Regions from separate parts of the Homo sapiens genome. Here regions 2 and 3 are each linked to region 1. Evidence: fine-mapped expression QTL. A gene starts in region 1. Each other region holds a variant in brackets. All regions are shown on one strand. Distances are between the middles of the regions.

Region 1 (11,158 bases):
GAGTTAAATGCAGTTTCTGTTCTCATGCCAGGAATATATCCATAAGCAAAATGGAATAAGTATGTAAAATACCAGCAGAAATTAAAACATAGCAAAGAAAGAGAGTAAAGGTATTTTCAACATAATGAAATGGGGTAAAAGAAAACATTTTATAGGTATTTTACATTTCATATTCTATAGTATAAAAAACTTTACTGTATATTATATATCCTTAATAACTGTTTGGTTAAAAGCTCCTCTTCCTATGAAAATGAGAACAGAAACCTAGTAAGAAGCAAATTTTCCAAAATTATAAAACATACTTTCTAAAAAACATTTCCCAACACAAAAATACCAATACTTAAGCTGAGCTATAGGGTAAAAAACGTTTAACCTTGGGCCTTCATATAATAAATCATGCATTCTACTTTCAAGATGTAACAGTTTCAAAAATGATTGGAAGCAGTGATACTATAAATGCTTTGTGAAAGTCATGAGAGCTAAAATATGAGCAAACATATCCATTTATACATATATTTAACATAAATACATCTAAATTGAAATTCTCCTTTGGATTTACTGCTTCTGATACACCCTGAAACAACAGCCCACCATATGCAATGTTAAGCAAAGTGTCAATATTCAAATAACAAGACAACAAGCAGATTTGTTGCATAAAATATGTAAATATTATTAACAGAAAGTGCCATATGATATCTCATGTTTTGATGGTTTCTGATCACCTATCTTTTCTGCCTCCTCAGTATCTTAGCTAAGACTACTGTTGTCAACAGGTACTTACGGATGTGCTGTATTGAGGCAGCGCTTCTGAGCAGGCACCTGTGGTGCTGCCCTAAGGAAACTTAGCATACCCCTTGCTTTTGATTTGCTTCGAACTTCAATGTACCATTTATTTTGAGTATATTCTTTCATACTCCTTATTCCTGCTATTTTACTTTTTAAAATAAACATTTCTGAAAGAAAATTGCCATTTAAATGATAACATCAAAAATATCAAAAAGATTAGTAATCAGCAATCATACCAAAGCAGCTATGCTTAAAATTTCTGCCAGAAGTTAAATGAAAAAGTTAATGCTAAAAATTCAAGTTTAGGAAAAAAAGAAGAAAATGACAAAATCCAACCATGGAAAGCACTTGCTAAACTGGCCATTTATTTGCAGTGTGTCAAAAAAATTCTTTCATTTTCAATAAACAATAATATAGGTACAATCTCTCTCTCTTGCTCCGTGTTTGTGTGTGTGTGTGTGTGTGTGTGTGTGTGTGTGAATTGAAAGGCAGAATTTTGGGACTTGTAAGCTTCTAAGTGGTACCCCCAAATAATTTCTAAGTTCAGTTGATTTCAATAAAACACTAGCTCTTGTATATCTCAAAAGAAAGACACATACATTTATTTTTTATTGAGAGTTAAAATTTATAGCTTTTTCTGAACCATTTGTTTATTCTAGTTTATCAATGACTCAAGAAAAACAGCAGATATGCTGATTAATCAAGTTCTATCGATCAGTAGCATATGTCAATATTTCACACAAACATCTGCAGAATAGTTTCTTCCAATCAAAAATTTATAAATCAATTTAAATTCCTGGTAATTAAATTTATTTGCTCTTCAACAATGAACACAGTACTTTATAAAGAGTAGTATGTGAAATCTGCACTCAAGAATATATTGATCAAAGGTAAAATAGCACCTTTCTATTTCTATTAAACCAAGGTTCTAAGAACTAGAAAGTTCAAACCTTAAAAGCCTGCAATTGTTTCAAATACATCTAGTAATTCTGTTGATTTTGGGCCACTAAAAGTGATTACTTAATTAGGCAATCATTCAAGGCATCCAAACACTCACACAGACAAAAACAGGGAAGTATTAGCATGGCTGTCTTCACCTTGACATGAACATTCTGAAAAACAGTGCAGACTCTCAAACTTTGTGGATCTGTCCCTATGAATGTCCTGAGTAAGATACTAAATTCTAAAAGGTGACAACCAGAAGCTCAGGAAAAAATAATTAACCTATAATGAAATTACCCATTTATCTTTTCAGGTGGTTTATATCTTAAACTATCTTAGAAATGCAAAGTAATAATACAGATGGTCTCTATAGATTCTTGGAAATACTACCTATTTTCTTCTCTCTGGTTACACTCTTATATTATCATCTAAAAGTAATTAATGAAATTTCTGCACTCTTGTATATCTATCAGAAGTAACTACCTACAAAAAGGTTTTCAAAGTTCCTGCCTAACATGAATAAAAACAAAAACAAAAAATATTTTCTATTTATGGGAAGGAAAAAAATATCAGCCCTGGAAACTCAGCTACAGGAGTCTTAAATATAACTAAAGAATAAAACCCCCTATTTTCACTCAGAAGATATCAGATACTGTTTTAAGAATCTTACTGATGAAATACAGCCAGGAGAAAGAAAAATACTCTATTTTCAGAAAAAAAAAAAAGATGTTTCTTGAAATAATTCCAAAGAGACCCTATAAACTGTGTTTTTAGGAGAAGAGAAAAGCAAATCAACTCACACATACAGCTTCCAAACAGAAGTCTTACCCTCTTCCAGGAAAACAACAATGAGACTTTATTACCCTGCTATGATTCTTTCATTTCAGACATGATTAATTAGCAAGTATTACACTTCTCAAAACTCCCACCCTACTCTTCCCTGCTTATTTGATGATAGACCCACATGAAATAACAAGTTGCCTCCAGCAGTGTAAGACAAGTATCCAAAAACTCTATTTTAAAGAAGAAACACTTCTTTCCTATCTTTGCCTCCCAAAATGAAGCAGGCTGCTTCTAACTGCTTTCACAATTTTGTTTCAACTTGGTCATTTTCCTAACAATACCTTTTCAATTTTAAATAATGCATACAACATATTCATTATTCAAGAACACATAGCATGTTTAATCTGATACCTCTATTTTTAAGCTGAAATTCCAAAGGACTTATGTGTCCATGCAGTTTATATTGATAACCATAAACATGCACAATTAATAAACAATAGAGACGATGTGTACAAGCATGTTTTGGGACATGGTTTTTGTAGAAATAATGTTTCTTTTCCAAATAAAAGCTAATTTGTCACAAATATAATGAAGATAAGAAACAAGCATGAAGGAGTAAAAGAGAGGAAGAACAGAAGAGGATAACTAAAATTTGAATGAAAAACTCTTGACTCTCTACATATTCTTCCAAAATAATCTTTCAAAATAATTTTCCTTTTGAACAATCTGTGTTCAAAACGTCCATTCCATGTGCACCAAGAAGCCAGCCATCACTAAATATATTATAAATGTATATTCTAACAATCATCAATTTATAAAGTCTGGGATTTCCCCTTCAACCTTTCAACTGTTACGTCCAGAAAACTTCACACATAGTGAAATCCTAATAAATAGATCTTGTTGGTTCCAGGAAACATTTTTAAAAATCTATACTGGTCAAAATATCCTTGCTTTTTTTCTGTTGTATTAAATTTAGGATCAAAAACATCAAAGCAGCTTCCACCTCGGACCTAACTTTTAGAGGATCAATGTGACAAGGCAGTCCCTGATAGATGTTTCTCTTGATAAACGACTTGTTCAAAAGAGACATTGTAGCTTTCATTTCCTGACCACAACACACTTTTAATTTGCAACAGCAGAGCTGCCAGAGTGTGAGCACTTGCCCACTTTCTAGTCTTTTAGGTTTGTAGCTCTGGTTCCTTTAGGCCGCACATTTGAGACAAACAAAATCTAAAAATAATCAGAGTAAAGAATTAGAAAACAAGAGCCAGTAACGCCACTTTATACATATACACAAGTGTCTACTTTATATATATGTATGTAAACTTTCACCCCTAGAATTCTAATATATGATAACAAGGCTCCTAAGTTAACATCATTTGCACATCGGACATTTAAACATAGGGAAATGAATTATGTGACTATTATTTAATAGTAAGCAGAGACTTAAGAGGGGGGCAATTTACACACTCAAATCTGCTGTTAAATGTCATGAATTATATAATTGCCTATGCCAGTATGTTTTTCATGAATTATTGCAATGATTATTATTAGTACTACCTAGAAATCACATTTAAGTATCAATACGGTGAACAGTCAAACCATCCAATTTCTGCTCTCAGCACATTGTCCGAGCTCCGATTTAAAATTTATAAATGTAATATCCTCCTCATCACAGGCAGCAGCCCAATCTGCTCTGAATATATATTACAGCTTTAACATCACAGAGGGAAATCGCCCATCTGGCAATCCCATTCGCTCCAACAGCTCCGGGGGAAAAAAAGCTGTGCTCTCTCCTCCTTAAAACATTTCTCAGGGCAAATTATGTGCATCTAAAATAAACAGTCTTCTTATTGATCGCTTCAAAGTCAACAAGTTCCAAATGCAAAATTCAATCAAATCTTTCCTATCGTGTAAGTGTGGTGTGTATTTAGCTCAATAGTCACCAGAGTCCAACCAGACGTGTATGTCGCGCAACGGGTCTTGTAGTTCCTCTCTTCGTATTCACATTTGTGTTAGGAGAGAGCAGTGACCACGGCCACACTACAGACCCCTGGCAGCTTTGCCCCACTGTTATTTCTTTTTTCATATTCTCTCTTTCCTTCTTTCTCTCTTTTCAGGAGGAATTAACGGTCATGGGGTAAACATAGCAACAACCAAAAAAAAAAAAAAAAAAAACAGTCTAAAGTGGACATATCCTTTGGTTATGCAAAATACTTTAACATCTTTTTGTTGTTGTTGTTCCCTCTGTCTTAATTGAATATTACAAAGTGTACACAGGGCACTGCCACAAGAGCTATTGAAAATCCCCTCTCACTCCATTTAACTGACTTTTTTTTTTTGTAAAGAAAGGAAAGAGCGATTTCAAACGAAGTCAATTTCAGTGCCTGATTATTTAATTCTGTCACAAGTTAAAAGTAAAAAGCGCTGACAGGCAGACGAGTGAATGGAAAGGGGGAAGAAAAACCTATCCCTACTCTTTAAAAGACATCAAGGACTTTGGACAATCAAAATATAATTTTTATTTTCATGTAAAAGACACCTCTTCACTTACCCGCCCCCCCCAAAAAAAAACCACACTCAGAAGAACTGATTACTCCACAAAGTGCAAACATCAAGAGCAGATAGTCAAACTGCATTAATAGATTGAGAAAAATAAAATTTTCATCCAGTCCTGTTCCTGTGTGTGTACATATATATAGATACACTTTCATTAGTTAGTAATCTTTCCCAACACTCCTGCCCTCTCCCCTTTGCCCAGCCTCCCTCCTTCAAAAAAAAAAAAAAAAAAAACCCACACTGAGTTTAACTAATTTACATACTATTTGACTTCAGCAGTTATATATATATAGTGCATTACTAGTAACGTGCAACTTCTGGATGACAGCTAAAACCGATAAAAGTGGATTCAAGTAATATATTAATCAAAACTGCAATATACAAACAAGTGATAGCAAAAGAAAAAAAAGCATGGTGACATTAAACATATATTTTTTAAAAAAAGGAATTCTATATCATGAGCAACTGCTTGCCAGGCAGTCTTCAATGGTTTTATCATGCTATTTCATTTGTCTTTCCTATTTAGATGCAAAGGAAGTAAATTCCAAAACTGACATACCATAAACACTGGTGCTACTGATCATTTCTTGCTGGCAGCACAAAAAGCTGAATTGGATTTCTCACAAGCAGGAATTCCAAAGGTTGCTTTTCATTAAAGCCACTTTTCCTCTCAGCTATCAAATGTCACTGCCTTGAAACGTGGGCCCTTTCGTCAGGTATTCATTTAACCTACATGCATATAATTAAGGGGGAAAGCAACATCAACAAAAAGGGGATCTCAGATCACAGGAGAAGAAAGAAAGGAAAAAAAGCACATGACCAGGAATGCAAGTCCATGTCAATTTCACTCACTCCCATTGAAACTAACAAGAGCTCCGGGGAGGACGGTAATAGGATCAGTGGATTGTATATACCATTAAATTATACATCTTTCTCTCCCGTTCCTTGCCAACAATACGCCCACCACGCTGTACCCCCTCCTAGATGATGTGCTTACATTTTTCTGCAACCGATCTTCTGACATTTTCTCGTTCCCCCAGCCACGAGATTGTAATTTAACCTCAACTTTTTGTGTGTGTGCAAGATTCTTATTTACACTTCTTATTTACTTAGAAGTTAGTTCCCGAAGAAAGTCTAGCCCCACCCTATGGCTCCGCTTTCTTATTTTTTTATTTTTGAAGTAAAAAGATAGTAATAAGTAAGCCCAATATAGCGAAAAGCGAGATTCTTGCAATCGCGAACTCTTAATCCCATACTATTGTTACAATGATTAAGCAGCAAAAATATGCATTATAATGTTTCAGGGCTACTTTGAACAGAGAAATTAGACAGCAGGTTGGCGTACAGAATAGAAACGAGTGGAAATTGAATTTAATGTTTACGGCACAACTGAAGATCTCTTTTAATTACAGGTCTTGGATGTATTTATATTCTTTAAAAATAAAACAAAAACAAATTTAAACAGATGGTAGAAAACTACGAAGCTCCTCTTACCTGAACGCGCGGAGAGAGAACCCGATAGGTTAGCGTAGCATCGATCCGATGTGTTTGCTGATGAATGGAAGCTAGGGTTAAGTGAAGGTGCCTATGATTTGAAATCATTCCAAGTTTTTGAAGGGAAGACGGACTGCAGCCTCTGCCATGTTGGAATTTCAAACCCAAAACAGCTGCTTGGAAGGAGCCAGCATGCCAGAGGCTGGGCGCAGGCGCAGAGCGCCGCAGAGCCAAATTCAAATCACTTTCACACTAAGAGCCAAAGATCAGTTTTCAAAGGAGAGAGGGAGAAAGAGACGGAGGCTGCCGTGAGGGAGAGAAGACGGGAGGCAGTGGCGAGAGGCGGGCAGTGGAGAGAGACGGGCAGCGGGAGGACCAGGAGGGAGAGGGAGAGGCGCACGGAGCCCGCGGAGCTGGAGGGGGAGAAAGGGAGGCGGGAGGCGAGCCGGCGAGCGAGCTAGAGACGCGCCAGAGATTCATGGGCAGGGAGGGCTCAATGGCCGCGCCGCGCCGGCCGGCCGGCCGCTCGGGTCATGTTACACGGCCGGGGCCGCGGCGGCCGCCCAGCCTCGCCGATGCGCTCACGCGGCCCGGAGGGGGCCCCGAGGTCATGATTACGCGCGCGGGGACTCGCAGCTCTCCCTGCACGCACTCTCTGGCGGCCCAGCCTGGGGAAAGGGGAGCAGCGCCGTAGGGGGAAGGGGGCTTTCTTTCCCACGCGTGACCAGCCGGCCCCTGCGCTCCCCGGCCTGCGTTGGAGGGCCCGGGACAGAGCCGCGCTGCTCCCCGGCCCGCGGGCTCTTCCCTGCCGGTTCCCGGCCCTCTCGACAGCTGCGGCCCGTCCGCCCTTCCCCACCCCCTCTGCGCACGGGACGGGATCTGGTCTCGAGAGCCTGGACCTCACCGGCACCCTCCCCGGGGCCCCCAGCACCAGCCAGAAAACGACTTGATCTGCTTAGAAGAGGCAACTTCGGGGAGAAAATTCGCGTTCGCCCAGTTCCCCTCCCCCGCCTCCCTGTGAATAAATAAAATCCTAAGTGTCTAGGTGTGCGGTCCCCTCTCGCGCTCCCTGGCTCCCCTCCCTACCTCCCCCAGGCGGCTCGGGCTGGAGAAAGCAGCGCCCGGGGGGCCCTGGTGTCGGCGGCTGGTGCGCAGGCATAGACGTTAGGCTTCTGCCTTCCCAACCCCCCTCTATGGAGTAATCTGGGGACCCAGGAGTGGGAAGAGAGTAGGGGCTTTGTGGTGCTGGGAGCCGAGGAAGAATGAAATGTGCAGTTGAGTGTGTTGCTCGCATCCCAGGGAGCAATGCAGTGCTGATTGTCTGTTGCTGAGATAGCCTTTTGTTCGGAACATAAGGTTTAAGAAACACACACACGTTTTCTGGGGTCTCTTGTTAGATGTAAATGTGCGGCATCCAGACGCTTACTATGCAGTGTAAGCTCAGTTGGTTTACTAATCACCCCGCCCCACCCGCAAACAATCAGGATCATTTGAATGGGAACCTCATTCAGACTTCTAGGCTGAGAGTATTGCCTTCAACCTATTTCATTCTAGACTAGCCAACCATCCAACTGAGATAATAAAGCAAACAATAACATTTGATCATGATGTCTACGAGATAATGTGCCCGGCAAAGTTCTTTAGGAATTGTAATGAGAAAGAGAGTGAATTGGGTCATAATTTCTCTTCGTTTTCATTAAATATGACTTTAATAGATAAATGGTGAGTTTATACTTTGGCCTGGTAGACATCCAGTCTTCTATATTTCAACGAAGCTAAGAATGAAAGAGGCAAATTATATATTCCACCAGGAGCCCATCAAGCTGAAAATGTTACCTTTGAAGGTTGGAACCGAAAATGCACTTGCTGAGGACTGACCCTCCTCATAAGGGTGTTCACATTTCCCCCAGCTTCTCTGTTGTAGATTTGATAGCCTAAATTGCAGCTCTCCAGATGCTGAAATGCAGCTCTTTAAAAATGCCAAATATATACTTTGAAATTAATTCCATTCACCTTTTATGATGTTCTTACCTTTGAATGGATGCCTTTAGCTAACACACTGAGAAATAAAAATTATTTCAGTTAAATCTAGGCAGATGACAGAATTTAAAAGACAAAAAAAGAGTGATTCGAGATCCTAAGAAATATTTCTAAGCAATGAGATTTCTATTTGGAATGGATTTGACCTTTCTGTGAATTTTTTAAAAAAGGAGTCTTCGAAATAAAACAGAAGAACTTTATTCTGATGTAACAGAGAACACTGAAACCTCTTTAGTTATATTTTACAAGATGGCTTTGAAAATGATATTACGAAAAGTTGTTCATTGGATTTTACCACAAAGAAATAAGTGTAGGGAAATATCTGTGGGTCACTGTTGGATTGAGTACAGATGAATTAAAAAAAAAAAAAAAAACTGTGAAGCGCTCATAATCGCAGTTATTGCCCATTTGGGGAATGACGACCAAAAGTCCTCTGGACACACAGCAGATGCTCTGTGCAATTCGGGCAAAACTGCTCTGTTCTTGTTTGTTAAAAAAGTTCAGAGCTCATCAACCTTTAACATTAAATCCTAGCGTTGAATTTACAGTTCCTTGTGTAAATTCAAATAGTGAATAAAATATATAATACAGTGCCCACTGAATATAAAAACAATGTATTTTGATGACAGACTTAAAGCCATTCATCTGTAATATCTAAAATAAAACAACCCCTGCTCTTTAAAAAGAGGAGGAAAAAGTGTGGTCAGCAAGAGTTTATTAATAGATAATAACTGTACCTTTCCAATTCCCTTATAGATTCATTTGAAATACACATTATAAAAAAATCATTCAACATGCAAATAAATATAATTAACTTTGGAATCAAATAATTGGAAAACTGTTCAAAAGAGCACTGGATAGAGGTACAGAGTTTCTAAATTGTTCAAAATTACATATACTCTGGGAATAAAAGACACTTACATAATAGAATATACATTATGGGACTTCCATAATAATAAGATACACAGGAGAGTTCGTCATTGCACTATTTCTCCCTTTTTTTTTAAGTATAGGTAAAAGTTGCTTTTCTCCAATTATTTTAAGCAAAGGAAAATAAAACTTGACTTTCTTTTCCACAGAGATTCATGGCATTGTTTGCGATGTTCAGTTTTTGTTGTTTTAATAAAACTATCTTTAATTATGTGGTATGATTAAAAAGCACTTTAACAGTCATCATATTCTGTATGCATTTATCTTCAAAACTTTTAATCAAAAGAAATGTTTCTGGCTGTAGCTGACATCCATCTCTATAATATCTTTTGAAACTTCTTGATATAACATGAGAATTAAATATTGAGTGTTTAAAGGAAGTTGATTGGCTAGTCAGGGAAACAGTTATTTCAGAAAATAATAAATTTGACTAATTTTTCCCACTCTATTAGCAATATCATTTCTCTTTCTATTTTACTTTTTAAATGCACAGACATTATAATGCATAACATTTTGACTAATATGTGAAATTCTAATACACAGTATACTCAAACTTGTGCTTTTTAAGAAAATCAGAAGAAAAATCAACATAACTCTTCTTCAGGAGTGTGTGTGTGTATGCCTTCCTTTCAAGATAATTCAGAGGGGAATTCTACTTTTTTCTGCTTTTTCTTCTCAAAATAATGTAAGCAACAACAACAAAAGTGAAGGTTAAGGGAATAAGCAAAGTGATACTGAATGTGATTTTGCAAATGACCATAGACTTGTCTGCACTGGACTAAGGAAAATATGAGCTAGGCTGGACACAGAGATGTGCTTTACCTAAGTGATGGGAGAGGAAAGGAAAGGAAAAAAAATCAGTGGAGGCAGAAGGTAGACAGCGGGTAGAAAAGATGAGGGAGATGTAGGTCACAAGATGCTTTAAGGAAAGAAGTTTGGAGGGCTATCATGTATAGTTTTTCATAAAATGCTAAACGCAATTCAATTTAATTTTTCAAATATTGTTTTTTAGTTTTGAACTTAAATGTTAAATATTTTAATAAAACATTAAACTAATAATATATTCTTCCAAACTCCTGGGTTTCAAAACACATTCTAGAACTTAGTAGCTGTTTATGAAACTAGACTTTTTCTTTCATATTACTCACAAAAATCTGAGGTAGTTCTTACAATAATGCAAATTAGTGACAAGATAATTTTTTAATGCTTCCATAAAATTGCAGTATAAGGGTCATGATTTTCACTTCAATAAAGTTACTAAGAAGTCCTTATGTACCACCCTTTCCCCTAAAAAAAAAAAAAGAAAAAAAGAAAGAAAAAAAACCACAAAAGCTAGTGAAGATCATGACCTCATTGAGTAAAATTACTCAATTTGCTCAGAATGACACTCAAATGCAGGTACTGTCAAAGGATATTAGTGTGGTTCATACATCTCCTCAGTGATCTAGCTCTACAGTAGAGACAAACTGGAAAATCCTGTGATGGGTTCACTTAAGATGTTTTGCTTTCTTCTATTAACCTGAGTATTACATTTTTAAATTCACATATATTTATAGTGTGTGTATATTTGCTGGAACTTTTGCCTGATTTTGCATGGTTCTCAATTTCATTTAGAAAGTATTCA
Region 2 (11,158 bases), 120 kb before region 1:
TTTCTCTGCTTCTCCTAACCACTTGGCGACTAGTCCAGAACCGGCAATTTTGAAAAATGTGGCCCCCAGCTGACTAGCGATGCATCTGCCCAATAATGTTTTGCCTGTCCCCCGAGGTCCAAATAAAAGGATGCTCCGAGGTAAGGCCGTCAGTCCACTGAACGCGTCTGACCTCAACACTGGCCATAAAACCTCCTCTTTAATGACAGCCTTCACCAGGTCGAGACCAGCAATGTCATTCCAGTCCACTGGAGGTCCTTGGGTGATAATCTCATTGGTTACCAGGTCGATGAGGTGCGTGTCAGTATTCTTCAGTTGCTCGTCCACAGAGTGGTTGGATGAGGTAGCTGCACGGAGTCCAGGGCCTTGCATTGGGTGAGAGAGGAGCTGCCTGTGCTCGTCCCCATGCTCACTCATTACTGGCGATGTGTACTTCCCAAAGGATTCACTGGATCTTGATCCCAATGAATTTTTAGCAGTACTGTAGGAAGGAGGGGTCAGAGCCCTACTGGACTGGCTGCTGAATTTCCTTTGCTGTTCAGAGGACATTAGCTGCTTCGTTGGCTTAAATGCTAAGGATGATGTTTCAGCACTTCTGTCAAAGCCATTCCCCCGATTTGTGTTTGAAATGCTGTTGTCGGGCATTCTGTACATAGGACTCTGTGTAGATCTCTGTTGGCCATAGCTGTAATTTCCATAACTGGAGTCCATATCTCCTTGCCCTGCCATGTAGAAAGCTTTCCTTTTGAGAGAACTTGCTGAACTGTTTGTCAGAGCCGACGGTGCAATAGGTGTCAAACCATGGCCCTGGTAGGTGTAGCCAGGAACAGTGGTGGGGGGTAGGGGGGTGGGAGCAGGAATTCCTGAAGGCAGGTACGCTGAAGGCGGAGGCGGTGCCCCCCCAGGGCTGTACCCAGACCCCACAGCAGTCTGAGGAGGATAGCTAGCAGACGGATAGCTGTAACTGGAGAGGTTAGAAGTCCCATTGTAGCCTGGGACCAAGGCTGGTGGCGGAGGAGGTGGTGGTGGGGGCTGTAGTAGCCCAGAGCTATGCAAAGGAGACGGATGAGGTGAAGGAAGTGCAGGTGCTGGCTGGCTACTATAAGTAGAATGCAAATATGATCCGTTGTATCCTGGGGCATATTCCTGAGATGGGAGCCCTGCATGAAGACTGGGTACAGTGTGGCTTCCACAGGTACTACTTGAATAACTAGGTTCTGTCAGGTTGCTGGCTACCCCAGGAGAGCTTCCTATACTCGCAGAGACATCTGCTGGAGGGAGGGCTGAACTGACTCCAGCTTTGCTGGCAGTGATAACATCCGGAACACAGTTCATGGGATAAACAGCTTCTGAATTCAAGGAAGGCTGCCAGGGTTCACTTTCATTTTTCCGACCGTTCACTAGTCCTGATGGTGTGTCCGAATAGTTGCTGAGTACGGGTCGGTCCACAGGACCTTCCAAAATGCCGGAATACTTCTCTGCATATTTTTTTAGTAGGTTGGATGCAGTCAGAGCAGATATGTCATCATTCGCCCAGGCGTACTGATAGGTGCGCTGCAGATGACCTCTGTAGGCTTCAACTTTGTGGGCAGGAGACCGAGTGGTTGAGGTGATGTCAAAGTGCTGTTCTGGCCACTGGGCATGCTCTGGCGTCCACTGCATCTTCAAGCCTAAGAATTTTGGGGGGAAAAGAGTTAATTTACTTAAATAGGCATCAGAACTCTTAAAGCTTTTCCCCCAATTTCTTTTGTTACCTATTATTTTCCATTAATGATATGCATACTTTAAAAGATCTACACTGTTTATAATACCTATTATGATCCCTATAATAAGTACTCTTTAAAATGGACTAAACTTCAGCCCTGTTTAAAAAGCACACTGAGTTTAAAATATAACTCTGTAGTTACCTATATTTTTTGCATTTGTAAGGAATAAGTAAATCTATTTCTGTCAAGCCCATCAGCTTACCTACTATACGCACATACACAATCACATATATATGTACACACACATTCCTGTCAAATTAGAATTCAATCATAGGTTCTTAAAATAAGCAGACATTTTAAATATCTTGCACATGGCAGTATTAACATGTACAATATCTAGCTATTCTGTCTGTTCACATCACAGTTTGTTTTACATTTTAAGCAATATAAAAATGAGACACAGCTGACAGATCACATCTAGGATACCTCTCTTATTTGGTACTGAACACCTAGTTAGCACAGTATAATGCTCCCTGCGCAGAACAATATGACACAGACATAGCAGGTCATTCCATAATCCAACTCTCATCTAAAGTGGTCCACGACAGTTTCAAATCTGCTTCGTGGAGTGCAGCAAAGCAATCTCCCAGGCAGCGCTCCATCGCTTTCATCGCACAAAGCCTACAACTCGGTATGAATTACAACTGGCTCCTTTCTGCCTCTCAGTTCTGTTGTTGAGTCTCTGAAAAAAAAAACAAGCATCACTTGTCTGTCGGTCTTCTAGCGTTCTCCCTCCTTCTCTTATAATCCCTCCTCCCCTTACAGCCTGCAAGGTACTAAGAGGGGAGAATGTGTGTGTGTGTGTGTGTGTGTGTGTATTTATACACATCCTGTCTTATACATCTTCATATATATATATATATATATTATATATGAGAGAGAAAGAGAGAGAGAGAGAGAGAAAGGAAACTGAGGGGAAAGGGAAGATAAGAATGGAGAGAGATTCTGGATTCTAACTCTTTCAATTTCTATAGGAAACCACGTAGGGCATACGCTAGAGGAGTACAAGTAGATAATGAGATGGTCTGGGTAATTCTATCATCTGCTGGGTTACTAAGTGAAGCAAAGTTGACTATGTAGCAAACTACAAAATGAGCATTTTCTCATTTAAGAAAAAAATACTAAGCAGTCAGAATAATTTGAATTTTAAATTGTAAAGAGACTTTAGAAATTACTTTATTTCACAGATTAGGAAACCAGGGCCCAAAGCGATTTATAATGTACCCTCGAGGTCTCACATACAGTTAGTTACAGAAGAGGACTGGTACCCTGTTCTCCTTTTTCCCATTGCTGGCTCATCTCAGTCTAATCTCTGCTTGGTTTAACACTTCCTATTCTGGTACAGCTATATTAAGCATCTCTCCTTCATCTTTTTTGTATTACCCAAAGTGAATTTTGCAAACTGTCTTGTGCCCTCTGGCAGAGATGCCTTGATAAGGAGGAGGCCTGGTCTACATGAAGCATCTGTGGCATCAACCCCCTTCTGAATTACTACAGTCTATTTTGTCAGTTTCTACCCCCTTCTGTGCTCTTCCTCCAAGCTCTGTGGCTCTTCATTGCCTGACTCTGGCTTCTGACATGGCCGGCTCTGACTTACTGCGATAAACTGAACATAACACACAGTTTGGTAACAGAATGGCATGTTGATTCCCTTCTGACTCCCTCTTCCTTGTTTGCAAAACCACTGCACCAGACACTGGAAGTTAATTAGCAGGATGATGCTGTGCTAATTGTGTTAATTTACAAGGTTTTAGTCAAAGAGAATCATGCCAGGGCTGGCACTGCTGTCATGCTTCCGACTTAATGATTAAGAAATACTGAAAACAAGGTGGGAAGGATTGCAGTAATTACACAATAAATGAATAAAGCAACAGGATTCATTTGCAAATATATTTTACTGCAATTGTACTCATTTGCATTTTGATTTTTAAAAAGGATCCATGTAGATATTCATTTGCAAATCACAACTCAGTTAAATTAAGTCTGAATGCTGCACAGTGTAACTTAATCAACCTAAATATATGTATATACATATTAGTAAAAATTCTAAAGACCTCAGTTCTCTTGTACATGCAACAGATTCTTTCTTCAATTTCCCTCAACTACCCCCAAAATTCATATTTATGTTTTAAAACTTTATATATTATTAAATAATCTCATTGAATGGGAAAATAGTATTATAAAATCCTGATGAAATGCAGCTTGCATCATTTCACTCAGAGAAACTCTGAGGATGAGTTCCAGGGAGAACTAAAGTGGTATTCTTAATTATTTCTGCTTTCTCAATCATTACTTTTTAAGGGGGAGGAAAACACACCGCAAAATGGGTGAAATGACCGAAACCACACTTAAAGGGGAAAAGCTGCAATTTTAATGAAGCAGCATTTCAGGAATCATACTTTCATTAAATTCAACTGGAAATTATTAAGAGCAAATCACCAGGAACCAATCGCAAGTAATCAGTATCTAAATGCTTCTAGTGTCGTGGGATTTACTTCAAGCCTTATAAAAAGGAGAGAATATTAATGTGACTGTAATGTAGAACTGTCTAAGAGACCTACAAATTCATTAGTCCTGTAAATTATTTCTAGGGAATTTCTATTATGGTTCTTTTCTTTAAAATATTATCAAAATACAGAGTAGAGAAAATAAGAACACACATATGCTGTGAGTATAAATGTGATTAGTTTGATACAGAAAAACGTGAAAAAAAAAGTCTTAAAGGGCTCAACAAATAATTTAGAAGTACAGGCAATGGAATTTAGCACAACACACACACATACGTACGCACACATAAGTTAAAGGACGGCTTCCTTTCAGTTTGCTGAGCTAAGCCATTGTTAGCATAAGTTAATAAACATACATAACAAATATTATAAAGAAATATACTTTTTAACTCAAATGAAACTGCTTATTTTTTTAAAAAAACACAGGAGGTGGGAACCCCCCACCTGTATTAGCTTAAGTAATGTTTTCTTGTAAATATATTATTCATACAAGAGATGAAAAAATGATTTTAATAAGTTATAATCACTGTAAAAGACAGTAGTATACAGTTTAAATAGAGTGTCCATTTCATAGGGTATTTTTGCATGGTTTAAGTCTAGCAAAACTAAATTTCGTAAGATTTCTTTTTTACCTGAAATTAAGCAAAGATCATATTTATCAAAATTATCTATTTGGAACAATTACTGGATACACCATTGCCTTTTGATTGTCATGCTATTTTTGGATGTGCTTACAAGATAATTGAAAGATTATTTATTGATGCATAGTAAATAACAATAACCTTTGCAGAGCTGCAAAAGGCAAAATTGTATTTTGTTTAAATACAAGGCAATGGACTTGTTCATATCCCCTGAAACGAGAATTTATCCAGTGCTTTAAAATCATTAATGTTATTTAAAAGCATAAGCTAATCTAACCACAAACTAATTCTTGATATTAGCAGGAGCTGAGGAAATCAGTGTTCAGGAGATTGTCTTGGCCTTCGAAGTACAGAGCCTTTTGGTTGGTTCCTTGAATTTTAACACTAACTGGAAATTGGTAACCAAATTTATTTTTTTGTTGTTATTGTTATTGTGTTTATTGGTGGTGCTATTTCTGATATGAAATGGAACAAAACCACAGAGCCAAATGTTTTCTGAACAACAAAAACATCCTGCTTTGTTTGACTGTATTGCAATTATGTG[T/C]GAGTCAGAAGCAATACACCTGTGTCACTTAACTTGGCACTCAAATAATGGGTTGAGTTTTAAAAACAGCTTTTATATGGTTTCTCTTCAGAACATGGAGATGGATCTCAGAAACAATACTATTTTAACATTATTAGAAGCATGACTTTAGAACAATAACTCCTACTGTTGTTTGGAAATAGTTTAAATAGGTACAGTAAAAATTCAGAAAACAGTGGAAAGTAAGAAAAATAGTTTTTAAAGATAATTGAAGAATTGTTGCAAAACATCAATTTTTACTTTTGAAAGGATCAGAAAAATCTTAATACAGCTGGCAAATTTCATCATGCAACGTGTTTTTTGAAAATACACAATCTAATAGAAAATTGCTTTTAAGATAATTTAAGTGTTACATAGGAATGACAGGTACTAGAGTAAAACATCTGAGCATTGTTCTTATTTTATTGTTATGGGATGACTCCATGTATATATAAATGAACAAATCCATATTTCCTATATAACTGGATAGTACGGATAACATTTGCCATTCTTACCATTACTGACCATTTGATAACTTAGGTTTAATTACTAACCAGTTACTGCCTTGTTGCTTTACTTTTTCCATTTTGCTCTTTAACTAGTTTCGAAACAAAACAACTATAGCATCCTCTGAAGTTCTGCCACAGCTATAAAATTTTAAACAGTAATATAGAAAAATGAAGGGTATAAAAGCAACTTTCAAAATGAGAGGAAAATTGGAAATAAAAGGTTAGGTCTTCTAGAATCTGTTTTTAGCATATATTCATAGAAATATCAATGTGAGGCACTCACTACCCAACCCACTCCTTATATACGTGTACTATTCAACAGTTCATCAGGTCTAAAATAGTTACTCCCTTTTACAATGTTCCCATAGGGTAATTTTGGCTGCTAGGGGCTCTGCCTTCATTTGTAGGTTTTCTCAGACTTCCTAAGGGCAGGGACCTGAGGCAAACACCTGCAGGCATGGCAGGTTTGCCTGCTCTAAAACAGATGCATAGCACTCACACAGGCCTGCATGACAACATTACTACACCTATTACATTTCTTTGAGCTATTGCACCTCTGAACCTTTCATTATTTTTTAACATTAAAAAAATTAATATAATATTAGCAAGGGTTTCTCTGAAAAACAATCACTACTGGGGTAAATACTGTAAAGTAATTATAATACTTTACAGCCTCTTCTTTCTGATGCAACAGATTTATCATCTCTTGGGTTGGAAATGGCAGAACTAACATACAGAGCATTCAAAATTTCCAGTAGAAAGTAGAAAATTCATTGGCTAAAAATACAGGTCTATGCAGTGAAGAACCTTCTGAAAGAAGGATTGTACACCTCCTGGCACTGCAAACTGGCCCTGTGCAATATCTACTTATTATCATTCTTCAATGGGAGTGATGACCAAATGAAATGTTTGAGGAGACTAATGCAGCCTTGTCTACTCATCCTCATAAGCCAAGAGGCCAACACAGCATTATCTAGTATTACTAGTACTAACTCATTTGATCTGGAAATTTCTTCAGCCCATTCCCCGATCATTCTTGGCTTTAAAATATGGCATAAAATCTACAAGTAACAGAAAGGGAAAAAAGTGAGGAAGAAGCACTGAAATTACGTATCATTTTTACCTAATTTTGTTCCATCTTTAGAGGACCAAAATTAGAAGATTTTATAAGCTGAATGTAACAGAGGGGCTGTCAAATTTTAAATTTAGTCAATAAAAGATGAACTATGTACAAAGCATTGTGGTTCAATGCTAAAAAGGAGGATCCATTTTCTATAAGGTGATGAAACCTTTTCAACTCTCTTTTTCACAATTTCACAGTCTAAATTCTCCAAAATTAGACTCTTTGATTTTAGAGATTAACAGAACTTTAAAATGACCTAACCATTCCAGACATCCTCACTTTTCGATTGATGTTTCACTTATAATGATGTCTTATAGGATTGGATACTATTTTGCATAATATAGTATTTTATTTGGAGCCATTGATAGATTGTTGGGATAGAAAGGGACTGAAGGAACATAAAGAAGGTTCAAGAATTTTGTTTCACGGTGAAAATTCCAGCCTGTAGAATAAGACCACTGGCAGCATTGCTTACATCATCACTTATTTATTCTAATCTTGGTTAAGTTGCTTAAGCACATCATACTCACTCAGCTGTGATATGTGGACAATAATGGTATTATTTCACCTTACTGTATTGCTATTAAGATTACCTGAATAATATTTTGTGAAACTATTTCCCAACTGTGAACTGCTACACAAACATTTCTTAGTATTCTTTTATTTTGAAAAGGCCAGGGGTGCATTAAAGACAAAACAAAACAACACTGGCTAGACAGAAAAAAAGTAAAATCACTCCCAGAATTTATAAGTCAGTTTTCCTTCAACCTCAGGACAGCAACTGTAAATGAAATTTTCCAGTGGGACTGTTGGTTCCAAGAAAGATACAGAAATTCTCTCATTCTGAGCAAAACAAAGAGCATAATCTCTTTAATCAAAAAGGTGTCAACATTTTCAAATGTTTTCAAAGTATTTTATTTATTTTTGATGTTTCCTGTGACTCAACATTTTAGAGATTAAAACTAAGAAATAAAGTACTTAGAGGTTGAAGACTAGTTAAAACTCATTTTAAAACCTGCAGTTTCAAAATAAGATATTCTAATTATATAACAATACTGTCAAATACTTTTTTCTCTTTAAATCATATTTTCACACCTCAAGACTCCAAATTACAATACATTTTGCAGCAGCCTTCTCAACCCATTCCATTGTATTTGCATAAAACAATGCTTTTTTTTTTTTAAACAATTATGAAGGCATTTCTGGCTAAATGGGTCTTAGTAAATATAGTTCAGATACCTCACCCTCTTACAGAGAAATTGCAATCTGACAGCCTGAGGGTAACATATACCCTGCAACTGTGTTTGGTTTGGCCAGCACAGGGCTTTAAAAATCACTCGACTTTATGTTTTAAAAGATCCGTCTCAAAAAAAAAAATCTGTATTTCCATATTTCCCATTTTTCAGACAAGATCTTACAACACTTCATTCGTGCCTGGCAACAGCTGTCCGATTCTGGGGACCAGCTCCCTCCTTGGGGCATATCCTACCCTTTCCACTTTGTCATGGTGCTCCTACCCCCTGACAATGTCAGGTATTTTCATGGTATCTACCAGGTCACACAGGCATTTAAATTTAGGACTCCACTTTAGAGCTTCAACTCCAGTTTCTTAACTTACATACCTTTTCTTGAAATCTAGAAAGTATTCAGCTCTAAAAGTTAAAAACATTTTCCAAATACTTTTTTTTATGATAAGAGAACCTCCCTACCCTCTTACAACACAACACGTGGGAAATAATTGATAACTTTCTTATTGATACAGTGTCATTAGTACAACAGTGTGGAATGATGAATAATGAATGGTATCTTAAAAAACTGGTCTCAGATGCTGTTTCAGTGTTCCCCCTTTTGCTCTAATTTGTCAGATATTATTTTTTGCTATTTTCCTATCCATTTTCACCATTCCTAATGTGCTGTATGTTTGATACCACAAACCAAAGCTTAATTTAACAGTGAGTGAAGCATCTCCTATTAGTTGAATACACGAGCATTAGTACAACTTTTATAAGGTTATTTAAGCTACTCCAAAGTTATGCTTCTTATTTCCTACAGAAAGTTGTTGGGTAGATGGTACGCAGGTAAGCAACAGATCTTGTTGTCTAAATGTCTTTATTTTGGGCTTCATAAAAGCCTGTATTTAATGTTACAGGCACCATGACTTGGACTAGGATGGTATTAATATATACTCTGTGTTTAAACTAAACTTGTAGGTAGCTTATGATCTGAATTGGGTTCTCTACAATGCATTAAATTGTATCCATAGCAAGAAAATATTCACCCAACAAATATGACCAAGTGTAACGGTGACTATTTTTGCCAAAATTTCATGTGGTGGATAAAACTTGATATGCATGGGTCTGATTGGTCATTATTTTTAATATGCAATAAAATGGCTTGCATTTATGAGAATGAATGCATAAGCATTATGCAAAGCAAATTACAGTGATGAAAGAAATATCATTTTTAGACCACTGAGCCTAGATTCACTATATGATCAGGACAGAAACCATATCATTTAAAGCAACCCAGGAAATCATGATCATAATTCAAACAAGTAATTTTTCCCTTAAAATTTCCTATACTTAAAGTATACAAGTGAACATATTATCATGCTCACACACAAATCCACATAGTTTAAAATTATAACTTAGATCTATGATTTCTGTGTGGGGGTAGGGGGTAGGTTTTGTAAATGTTTCTGTGTAAAATTTTTGAATAATAATCTAAAACCAAGTAAAAAAAAGTGTACAAAACTGTGTATATTCTATGGTAAGTTATTCAGAAGGATACATGAGGATGCGTGTACATGCAATTTAAAATATACAAATAATTCACACTCTGAATCTTCCTAAGTGTCAGGTGTCATTAACTATTGTAAGGGAAAGAGTCTGAGGTAAAAGGGCTGATTTTCCCATATTTAAAAACTGTTATTTTGTTTATGCTACCTCTGTGAATTTTAGACAATTTATAATCAGTTTAAATAGCACTTTGTAGTTAACCTTTAAAGTTGTTACTTTGCAGCCTTTCATTTCTTATGCCCTCTCTTTCCTTTTTCCGTATACATTTTTCAATCCATTAAGGCCATCTACCCTTCCCCCCAGATCATCAGGACATACCACGTATGTCCATAGGGACTGCAGTGGCTAATGAATATGTATGTTCTGTGTCACAACAGAGCACTACCCTTGTTCTGCAGTATCAACCCTCTTATGTGTGTAAATAACAGGTGAGCTGTAGCATGCAGGGATAAATGGGGTTAACACAACCTGAGAGCCCCATGCTATATTCATAGCATCCAGCCTGTATGATTGATCCATAAACAGAGTACTAAATGCCAAAAGTATTTTGCATTTTCTGAGTGTTTTGAATCTTTATTTTTTAAAATATTTTGCAGAGATAATAATTATCATCATCCTAAAAGTCTGAGGTTATTCCAGTTGATTCTCAAAATACTGTTTTGCCGTACAAAATATATTTGCATTTTTATTTAAGAAACATCTGGCATGATACCAACCTTGAATTATGACATGGCTAGTATATTTCATCAATCATAATCCTAAAATGGTATACTAACCACTAGGTGCACATATAACTCTGTGTAAATATTTGTGTGTGTGTGTGTGTGTGTGTGTGTGTTCCATTTCAACTATCTAAATGCAAAGCCCAATTTAGTTATATTTAAACTGAACTCTATTCATGTTTTGCCCAACACACCAAGCTGAAAACGGTCAATAAACAAATTAAGAAATCTTCCAAACCCCACAACCTTGCTTAAAATGAAATTTGCATTCATCTACTTCTCTGTGTTCCTCTGGAACCATACTCTAAAAAGACAGTTTACATAAGACAAAATAGATATATAAGTCTGCTTATGTAAGATTGAGCACTGTCTCATATAATTAGACAAAAGAGTAAGAATGTTATTCACATGTTGAGGGTAAAACTGTTCAACCATTCTCCTTAAAAACTTTGCTTTAGGTGACTCTAAAGTATGCAAAGCCCAGACAAAATTTGTTTGGGTTATTTATGCATTTTTCTCTTTTTGGCAAT
Region 3 (11,158 bases), 43 kb before region 1:
GTTAGGAACACACAAGCACACTAGTTTTATTTTATACTTACAATTTGGTTTTGAGACCAAATATTATCAATTTTATTGAATCAATTCTAACAGTATCTCATTTACTAGGCCTGGCTCCCAGTGACATTTAGCTATTTTCCCAAATCATATACCTGTGTTTATGTATGTATGTGTATATATATATATACACATACACACACACACACACACATATATATATATTCTTTTTAAAGTGATAAGTGTTGCCAAAATTAAAGATGATCAGAAGAAAGTGCTATTAGACAGAAAGCACTTTCCAAGCAGGAGGCCAAGTGTGCTTTGAAGGGCAGAAGACGTATGTATTTGTAAAGAGTGTTATTATTTAAAATAATCAGTCATTACTTAATATTAACACATTTTATATTATGATGTATGTGTGAGATTGTGTACACACACACACACACACACACATACATGCACAGCTACATGCTTCCAGAGACATCTCTTTTGGTATTATCAAAATGATAAAGTTCATATCATGATTCTCAGAGGCATTTGGAAGAGTTAGAGGAGAAAAGAAACAGAATGGTATTCAAAGCCATAAAACTGTGTCAGGGGATCACTAACTTCTTCTCCTGTGCCCTCCAAGACCACCCTAGATTTTTCTAGATATAATATTGAAGGAATTGTGTCTAAACTTTTTAAATGGGTACTAGCAGTAGCCAGCAAGACAAACAAAACCTTTCTCCAGAGCAGTGGAGAAGAAATGGTAACAGAAAGCTCAACCACTAGGCTTTGAGTGCTAGTTTAGAGAGCAGAACACACTGTCAATTGACACTTGCCTTTGACAATTTGAACAGAGTCGGGTCACCTGACCTCAGGCCTCATACACAGCTTAGTAAACTGCATTGCTCCCCAAAGAATAATTTATCTTTCCCTTTTCAGAGTACTAGACTTCACTCCAAAATGAGGTAACTGAGACTGGTCAACTGACTTCACATGAAAGAATTACTCTTGAGGAAGACAGTCAAGAATAGAGAATTTAGTCACAGAGGCAATTAGTTTACATTTTATTCTACTTGCCATTTGATTAAGTACACGTTTACCTAGGGAACAAGATGTTTTGCATGGCAACTAACAATGCAAACTTAAATTTTAAAGTATATATTTTTTATCCTAATGCTAATTCATTTTTCATAATCTGTTTTTAGTAAAATTCCTGTTTTTCAAAGTAGAAATAAAAATGAACAGTAACATGCAAAGTTAAATCAAGAATGAATGTCCTCACATATCTTGGGTCACAAAGACCAACATTCCTAAACAAAGGACCACAAAAAGGCATCATCCCTGACAGTTAAGCCAGGAGTTAGTATACAGATGCTTTACAAAGTGAGGTATTAACTCTCAGTAAAAACTGTATTACACGTCAACTATACGTCACAAAATAAATGTTCAGTAAATCTCTAAGGATTTATTTTACTAGTCTCCATTGACAAAACTTGCCAGAAAATACCAAAGCACACAATTCACCTCACAAAGAAGATACATGTATATATACGGCATTCACTCTTTACTGAAGTGAAGAATTTTAAAACTAATGTCTTTATGGCAATGCCTGCTTATAAAAGATACTCTGTGTAAAAGAGCCAGGAGATCCATCACCAGTGAAATGAGTATCCAATGAGACCTATCGTGTGCTCAGAATGTGGGAACTCAGGAATTGAAGACATGGTCCTAGGTCTGACAATCACATTATAAAATAGCAAACAAAATGAAGACATAATCTAATTGAGAGCTATATTGAATGTTACAGATAAAGTGGTGGAAAAGATTAGAAGTGAAGGAGATCAGCAGTCTAAAACAGTTACATGTAAGATCATAAAATGATCCTTAATATTGGCACTAGAAAATGACAGACTGGAATGAATAGACAAAGGCAAAAATCGAGAAATGTGTGTACAGTATATCTATGTGAAAGTTAAAAAGAAATCGCTGTTTAGATGGAAGATGAGACCAGGTTATCATAGTTTTAGAAGAGGAGTTTAAACTTCATGCAGTGAATGTTGGGAGCTACAGAAGGCTTGTGAGTAAGAGGGAGACAACATGAACACATTGTTTGTGGACTACCCAGCCCAGATAATTCAAAGTTGGTCGCAAGAGGGAGAACCTAAAGCCAAAGTTAACAACTCTGGATTCCTCTTTTATTCAACAAAATTGGATAGTAAATATCAGATAGTTTTTGGTCATGTTTTCGGTAAAGGACAAGCAGAGTATAACAATTATTTGTAAAGCAAATAGCACATCGGATAATATACAACAATGAGGCTGGGTGCAGTGGCTCATGCCTGTAATCCCACCACTTTGCAAAGCCAAAGCCAGCAGATCCCTTGAGCCCAGGAGTTCAAGACCAGCCAGTTCAAAACCCTATCTCTTGAAAAAATACAAAATTAGCAGGTGTGGTGGCACACACCTGTAGTCCTAGCTAGTTGGTAGGTTGAGGTGGGTGCAACACTTAAGCCTAGGAGATCGAGGCTGCAGTGAGCCATGATTGTACCACTGCACTCCAGCCTGGATGATGGATTGAGACCTTATCTCAAAAACAAAAATGAACACACACACACACACACACACAGAAACACACACAGAGAGAGAGTGAGATTATGAGAGGCTGGAGCAAAATCATAGCTCTGGCATCAAGTCTTTCAGATAACATGTTAGACACAGAGCTCTATACTGCAAGTTTGAAAGTGATGCTCATCTGGTTTCATAGGTACCACATATATTTGTTGATCTATATCACATATATGTCTTGATCCATATGTGGTTTAACTTTCAATGTAAGTTCTCAATATTTTATCTATACCTACTGAAATGCTTGATTGACTATCAGGCATGCCTTAGACAATCAGAAAATAAAATTTTAATTTTAACAAAGTAAATATATGCCTAACAAAGAAAAGGATCAAACAATACCATAAAATGGAAATTATCAACCTTTTATTTAAAAACAGTAGAGAATTTCAATCGAGTAGTGTTCAAGTATTGAGTCAATCTGAATTACACAGAGCCTTGACCAATATTTATTGCTACATGTTTTAGAAGCAATTTCCATTTTGATGGGTTGCTTCAAAAGTGGTATTCTGAAGCAGTTAGGCAACATAAAAATATAGGATCAAGATTATGTCTGTCAGATGAAAAATACAGCATTTATGCAGCATTATATAATCCATTCGCTGGTTTATGAGCCCAAGGTCCCCATGGGAGTGTCGCAAACCCACATAATAGCTACAGGGTTATATTTTGCATTTGAGACTCCAAATGAGCAGCAAATACTCTCTAAAACCACAAGTGTAACTAGAATACTTGTACTTGGTACCATAAAGTAAGTGCAAAATTGTAAATAATTTCAATCTAGCAGCTAAAGATGTCCTTGTTTTGGGTGATGCCAACATTAAAATATGTGCACTTTTCTTCCAGTTATGTCAGTCCCCCTCAATTGTTAAGATACATACAACATAAATCAGATGGTCAAATTGGGCCTATGAAAGAACAGTTACCAATGATTCAATGTCAAGGAAGCCTACTACAGTGTTCCCCAAGGATGAGGCCAGTATTTCTTAAACACTCGAGCTAACTGCCTTCAATAAAGAAAAACACATGATACTTAATTTCAAACAGGACATGACACCAGGGATAGCTGGTGTGGCTAACTCAGGAATGGACATAATTGTAGTTCAAAACAATAGGTTATATCTTCAATATAAATTTAAAAATCAAATAAAGTATCGGTATACATTTATACATTTATGGGGAAATAACACAATGGACTAGCAATCTCCAGCAGCAGAAACAAATGTGTCAAAAAGCCGTAGAGCTGGGTGAGAATCAAAAACTAATGCTGTTTTGGGATAGAACCATTTGTAAAAAGCAATCTAATCTAGATAAATACACACAATATATAAGATGTAATAAAGCAGTTATATAATGCATTGGCATTTAGTATGATTATTAACAATACCAGTCTAGTCTAGGCAACAGTACAGAACACATTTAAAAATATATAAAACAGGATATATGTAAATATTAAAGAAGTCTGAATTATGTAATCTAGAGAAGTAAAAGTTGAAAGGTGGCTCAAGTATATATAAATATATAAAAGATTATTTTATGTGTATTTAATTGTGGCACATTTTAAAGAGATGGAAAAGAATACAGTGTTGCTAAGATAGAGATATACCAAAAATGTAATTTTGTAATTTTAAAGTCATTGGAATTTGTGTGTGTGTGTTGGGGTGGGGGGCATTCTTACCTAACAGGCCTTCTCATGATTTTTTAAACTATAAAACATTTTTTAAACTATAGATTTAGTCCACACCAACACTGCAGATTTTACCAGACAGTATGAGGAACTGACTTCCGACTTAACATTTTTCAATATGCTGTTGGGTAAATTATCAACCCAAATAGTCTTTCAGTCTTTTGCTTAGAGTGAGGATCATGGGACTCAAAAATAAACTTTTTCCCAAAGGAAATGGACCGTTGGCCACTGACCACAGAATTAAGAACACTGTGCACTTTGTTTTTAATATAAGACTAAATTTATCTTTCAAATTGATGGGGTTTCTAGAGGTCACAAACTGACAGCCTATGTACAAAACACAGACTGCACACTGTTTGTAAAATCTTTGATTAGTTGCCTAATTTAAAAAATTGATACAATTACATTAAAATGGGGTATCTGCTGTATCTTGAAAAGAAAATAAAGAAAAGAAAATATGGCAACCCTCTGCCTTTATTTTCACAAGTCAACAATCTGCTGATGCTTCATGGTGACAAACGAGGAACAATCTTGCTACCTGTCCTCCTTCACTCATTTTTAACCAATCTAGTTCCAGGAGGCACCTGAGTTTGCCATCCCTGGTTTATAAGGATGGACATTTTCATACTCTGCTACTTGATGTGACCTATTTTAAACAGTGACTTTAGTATGCCTAGACTATCTTACAACATGTTAATTAATCCAAGAGAAACTAACACCAGTAAGTCAGAGAGTGGCATCCTTCCATGAGTGGTTATGCACTTCAATTCAGCCAGATTTAATTTGGTTAACAAATATTTCATGTTACCTACACTAAAATGGATTAGTGGCAATCAACTTTCTCTTTTCAGGAATTGAGGCAAAAATTAACCCTTCTGAGCATTAAAAACAAACAGAAAGCAGAGTGGAAGTTGTGGAATAAAGAGGAAAATATGTGCTATAACCAGGGCCAGAGGAATTTGCAATTAGAATAAAGAACAAAAT[G/C]TTCTGTCCAAAGAAAAGACAAATCCAAATCTTTTTAAGTTTCTTCCCAAGGATTCTCTCCAAGAAGTGAAGACCCAGAAGCAAGTTCATCTTTAAAAATTTTAAATGCTCAATCAAATCTATCTTAAACATTTGTTTTGTTATGCCTAGGGAAAAGATTATTTTTCTAACATTACTGTCTTAGCAAACAATGATAAGCTTCACAAAAATAAAATGTTCCATTTTGCTTTATTACTGAAAGCTATGAACAAAATTATTAAAATTAAAATATGAATTGAAATATTTTATAGTCCTAAACTTGTTTAAGTAAAAGGATTTTGTATTGTCATTTATTTGGATAAAATATTATACATAGGAACATGATTCAGTAAGAAGCAGGCATAGGGCCAGTCTTTCTAGAAGCATCCAGGAGATTAACTGGAAGTACCAGTAGGAGGTGTTGGTCCCTTTCATAGTTAAAATTATTTTATAGCTAGGCTCCTAAGTAAGGTGTTAAAAACAAGCTCAACAATATATAACAATATGATATTAATGTATTTTCTTCTAAGGAGCTAGAAACATTTCATATGCTTCAAACATAATCTATTTTTATGCATGGCAAAGATGCTAATAATGTTTCTTCAATTAAATGAAACAGTCCAAATTGAAAGCTATGAGAGTATTAGGAAAAGATGTTTAAAAAGTTGTCAATCTATTATAGATTTCTTTCTACTGAAGATTATGATTCCCGAAAGGGTTTGAATGTCTATTCCTGAAAGGTAATAGAGGAGACAGACTTCTATTAATGTTAAGTCCTCTGACATTCAGTCAGTGAAAATAAAAGGAGAAAGCATTAACTTTTAACAGTGGAGATGTTAAAAAGAAAAAAACAAACGAGCAAATTCTAAATAGCTGTGTGGAGCAAGGTGACTCAGCCTAGTTTAACAGAGAACGAAAATGTAATCAAATGAAACCTACGACCTCTGTACCAGAGAGAGTGAGGGAGACAAGAAGGCAAACACAATTTAAGAATCTGCGAAGAAAAAGTAAAAGAAGTCACATATGTGTGCAACATTCTGCTCAACCTTGATGCAATAGGTGGTCCCTAAAAGAACTGCAGGTCTAAAGAGAGTCAGGCAAGCGCCTTGGTACTTCCTTTAACCGCAACTTCAGCATCTTCCCATGACCCATTTTCACCTAAGGAAACTGAAGGCAACTCCAGGCAGCAGGGCAGAGTGAACCAGAGCTATGTGAACTGGTCACCAACCACCTGAAACCACACCTCTAATTTCCAAGTGAAAGCAAATCCCCTTGACTTTTGCCTCAACCTCTAAGCAGATTCCACAACTGGCATAGGCCCTTTATCTAGTCAAGAGTGGGATGTAGGTGTGTGTGTACCTGTGGTGTGTGTGTGTATCTGTGTGTGTGTATTCAGTGGAGTAAGGGATAGCTAAAACGACCAGAGGAGTGAGGAGCAAGGGGTTGGATCCTGAGGAGGAACTGCAAGAGTGAGAAGGATTAAGACAAGAAAAAGGACAGAGACTGGGTCCCATTCTCTCACTTTCTCCAGTGCCTAGCATAGGGCTTTGCACAATATAAAGACTCATGAGTGAATCAGCAAAAAAGCATATCTGTTGAAATTATATGTTCACTTTACAAAGCATTACAAAATGTGAATTATCAGGGAAGGACTCCTTTTCCCTCATGATGATCACAATTTAAAGGAACCAAAATTAGAGTAGTTACATCAATAAAGAAACCTACAGATAACATACACACACACACTTACGCACAAACACACACAATAATCATTTGGGTTAGAAAAGAGAACTGAAAAAGAACACATATGTGCTAGGGAATACTAGTAAAAACAAAACATATTACTTCATAACTGGGAGAAACTCATTCTTGCCAGTGGGATTTTTCTTCTTTTCTAAATATATTAAATATCATATTGGAATATATCTGAGGTGATACGAAACATATGTGTTAGATGGTATTATAAACCAGAAGGATTAAATACCACATCAAACAAACTGAGCCACATTACTCTGTATTTCCTTTCCTTAGCTGTTCCGGAACTTTAGAAATAATACAGGTAACACAGGACCTGTACTTCTCAGCCTTTCTTTTGAGAGCTGTAAACAAGTCTTTCTCTCTTTTCAGCTTGTTCAAGGGAAGAGCTGGAGCATCCAGCAGCTCTCTGCCACCATCTCATGCCTAGACGGGGCTGCATGTTTTATTTCTATCAATATTCTGTAGGTCTAGGTTTGGTGGAGCTTTTTATTCTGATAGTGGAAGGAACTACGTCATATTCCAAGCAAAGATGCATGCTCACCAGAGACAACAGCCATTCAAAATGTTTGTTTTGCCCCCACCAACTTGGGATAGAATTTTTTACAAATGACAAGGGAGAATAAATGCTTAAATCAATGTTTCTCATGGTATGCTCTATGGAACACTGGATTATACAGTTAAATCAGTTTGGGAAATGTGTACTATAACCTCCTCTTCAATATTCATAATACCTATTAGCATTCTAGGGGCTCTAAGAGGTCCTATTGTAAAGAAACCCAATTAACCATAACCCTAACTTACTTGACAATGGAATCCTCTCTTTTACAGGATGGGGCAAGCAAGAAGGAGGGTGTGAGGGATGCAGGGAACTGCCTTCTCATGACATTTTTAGTAAAACACAGAACCAGATCTTAGAACTGGATGAAAACATAGAAAGTGTCAATCCAGTCTCTTACTTTACATATGAAGAAACTGAGGTCCAGGAAAGTAAAGTCACTGGGACAAGATCATATAGCCATTATCTACATTAAGAGCAAAAATATTGGCCATGTCCTTTAATGGCTGTGCTCAATCATTTTACTACTTCACCAAACAAAGAAAATGTCAGGTTAGATACTCCCCCAATCCTACCCTGTAAATTCTCTACCTCCATCATCTTACAGTCCTTCTTTTCCTTTCTAAAAATTGTGTTAGAGATGGGGATCTCGCTATGTTGCTTAAGTTGGACTTCAACTTTTGGGCCCAAGCAATCCTCCTGCCTCGGCCACCTGAGTAGCTAGGACGACAGGTGTTCATCACCACACCCAGCTGTTCTGACCTCTCTATTTCATAGGCTAGCCCTTTCTCCCAGGCCCCAGACTGCACTTTCCGCCCCCCTCCTTTGAGATCTCATTGTCTCACATATCCCTTGCTGTTTTGAGCTCGGTGTCTCTGTCTCTTCTGACATTAACTGTCAATTTTCAGAATGTCCAAACTTTATCTTTCTTCATCTCAAACTATCACCACAGTCACTCTTTTCCTTAAATTCCTTAGAAGGTGTCTATATTTGACATCTCAACTTCCTCAACTTTCATTTGCTCCTCAATCATTAAATTCTGATTTCATTCTTCCCTACTTGCCTACAAAATTTTCCCACTACTTAATCCCCCACCCAGCAATGTTCCAGGCACATGGAACTTGTGATTTGTTATTGCCTCTTGACTACCTAATGCCCATCTGCATCTCTAGCTCATGTAAAATGCACTTCCTCCCTTCCTCTCCCCACCTTCTCTTATTAGTGATGCCCTCGGCATCATGCCTCTGCTCAAATATCACCTTTCCTAAGAAAATCATCCTTGATTCCTTAGAGCTTGTCATTTCTTCAGTCAACATGCAAAATATCTTACACACACACACACACATATTTTAACTCATGTAACCATAAAATTTGTTGTCCAAATCAGCACACATCTGAAAATGAAAGACTATTAGTAATTACGTTAGAACAACAGGTATGAACTGTGACCATCCTGGGCAAACTAAGATGTATATTCCCAGTAATTATAGCACTTAGTAGTTCACACTGTGCTTTACTTGTTCACAAGTCTGTTGTCTACCCAACAGACTGTAAGTTCCTCAAAGACAAAGACATTTTCCCACCCAGCAAAATGCTTAGCACATCTTGGATTCTTAAAAAATAGCACGGCCAGGCACATTGGCTCACGCCTGTAATTCCAGCACTTTGGGAGGCCAAGGTGGGTGGATCACTTGAGGTCAGGAGTTCGAGACCAGCCTGGCCAATATGGTGAAACCCCAGGGTCTCTACTAAATATACAAAAATTAGCCGGGCATGGTGGCATGTGCCCATAATCCCAGCTACTTGTGAGGTTGAGGCAAGAGAATCTCTTGAACCTGGGAAGTGGAGGTTGCGGTGAGCCAAGATCATGCCACTGCACTCCAGGATGGGCAAGAGAGCAAGACTCCATCTCAAAAAAACAAAACAAAACAAAAAAAACAGTGTTTTTGGATGAAGAAGCTGAATAAAGACATGAAAAGAAACAGTGATCTAAAAAGAAGAAGACTGTTAATGGTAACAATAGTTTCCTAGGTAGGAAAAAATTCTTAATAAGAGCAGATGTTAGGTGGTATAACACAATCATATATTTCAACAAAACTAGGAGTAAATCTGGTGAGGTGCTTCTGAACCTCAGAGTGTTTCCTGGTACCCCATGAAACAGACTAGAAAAAAGTAAATGACTTAGAAATTAGCAACCTATTCTACCTGTTTTCCCACCTCACAATCGTTTACTTATCACTTAAGGCCCAACTTTAATGTCACTTTCTTGGATGAAATATCGCTGCAAGTATCCAGGAGTTATTTGCCTCCTCTTTCATATTCTCAGAGCACTTTGTGGAGATTCAACATTAATTTTGAGAGAGTGCCAGGAAAGTTCACATACACTGTGTCACTTATTCCTTCTTATAATCCTGTGAGATAGTGTTATGATCCTCATTTTGTTTTATTGTTTTTGTGTTGTCTTGTTTTGTTTTGTTTTGTTTTTTTAAGAAAAAGTCTAGCTCTGTTGCCCAGGCTGGAGTCCTGTGGTCCAGTCTCAGCTCACTGCAGCCTCAATCTCCCTGGCTACATCAATCTTCCCATCTCAGCCTCCCAAGTAGCTAGGACTACATTTGCACACCACCGTGTCTGGCTAATTTTTTTTTTTTTTTTTTAAGAGACAAGGTCTCACTATGTTGCCCAGGCTGGTCTCGAACTCCTGGGCTCAAGCAATCCCCACACCTTGGTTCCCTAAAGTGCTAATATTCCAGGTATGAGCCACAGCGCCCAGCCATGATCCCCATTTTGGAGACTAGGATATAGATACAGAGGATTAACAGAATTTAAGCGCTTATTAAAGGGCTATGCTTTCCCTGACACAGCACTAAGCACATTGTGTCATAATTTTTTTTCTTTTCTTTTCTTTCTTTTTTTTTTTTTTTTGAGACGGGTTCTCACTATTGTACAGGCTGGAGTACAGTGGCAGGATTTTGACTCACTGCAACTTCTGCCTCCCGGGTTCAAGCGATTCACCTGCCCCAGCCTCCCGAGTAGCTGGGATTACAAGCATGAACCACCACACCCAGCTAATTTTTGTGTTTTTAGTAGAGACAGGGTTTCGCCAAGTTGGCCAGGCTGGTCTTGAACTCTTGGCCTCAAGTGATTCCTCCGCCTTGGCCTCCTGAAGTGCTGGAATTGCAGGCATGAGCCACCACACCCAGCCTCTGTGTCATGATTACTTATGTGTCCATCTCCCCCAACCCGGAGTCACACCACAGTGGTCCTCTCAGAGGCAAGTCAGGATGTGAAATGTATTAAATGAGGGTGAAGGAAGGTGTGCTGCCTCCTTCCTAAAACATAAACACCCAAACACTCCTCTTCAACACTATACCTCATCCCTGCTTTCTGCAGCCCAACTTTCTTCAAGTCCAGGTTGGCAGAGACAGAAGGAAAGGGAGAGGCACTAGGAGGTCAAGAGCCTTTGAAATCCCGCAGCTTTGGGTCTAGAGGGTAGTTCCACAACACACCAGTTGGTCATGGGACCATATGCAAGTAATTTTCTCTGA

Direction of the effects. Positions count from the first base shown, and alleles are read on the strand shown. Sizes are in standard deviations (SD) of each study's normalised expression. Not every link is listed here.
In carriers of allele T in region 2, the expression in subcutaneous fat of the gene that starts at base 6,735 in region 1 tends to be higher than with C alone (moderate effect, 0.42 SD a copy in TwinsUK).

What was found. PIP is the estimated chance that this variant, and not a neighbour inherited with it, causes the effect.
Region 2: its variant is fine-mapped to the expression of FIGN in subcutaneous fat (TwinsUK, PIP 0.95).
Region 3: its variant is fine-mapped to the expression of FIGN in visceral fat (GTEx, PIP 0.92).

The regions. Positions count from the first base shown.
Region 1 is chr2:163,729,274-163,740,431 of GRCh38, forward strand. FIGN (fidgetin, microtubule severing factor) reads right to left here and starts at 6,735. Exons shown (of 3, transcript NM_018086.4): 1 at 6,565-6,735; 2 at 5,630-5,799. The coding sequence starts at 5,654. It overlaps LOC107985957 (a long non-coding RNA gene), which reads right to left and starts at 4,668. Exons shown (of 2, transcript XR_001739759.2): 1 at 1-4,668. RefSeq lists enhancers at 7,342-7,858, 7,859-8,374.
Region 2 is chr2:163,610,137-163,621,294 of GRCh38, forward strand. It overlaps FIGN (fidgetin, microtubule severing factor), which reads right to left. Exons shown (of 3, transcript NM_018086.4): 3 at 1-1,670. Among named protein-coding and RNA genes, the nearest start is that of FIGN, 120 kb to the right of the region's middle. The variant T/C (reference allele first, on the strand shown) is at 5,459.
Region 3 is chr2:163,686,586-163,697,743 of GRCh38, forward strand. All of the region lies in intron 2 of FIGN (fidgetin, microtubule severing factor), which reads right to left. It overlaps LOC107985957 (a long non-coding RNA gene), which reads right to left. Exons shown (of 2, transcript XR_001739759.2): 2 at 1-11,158. Among named protein-coding and RNA genes, the nearest start is that of FIGN, 44 kb to the right of the region's middle. The variant G/C (reference allele first, on the strand shown) is at 5,282.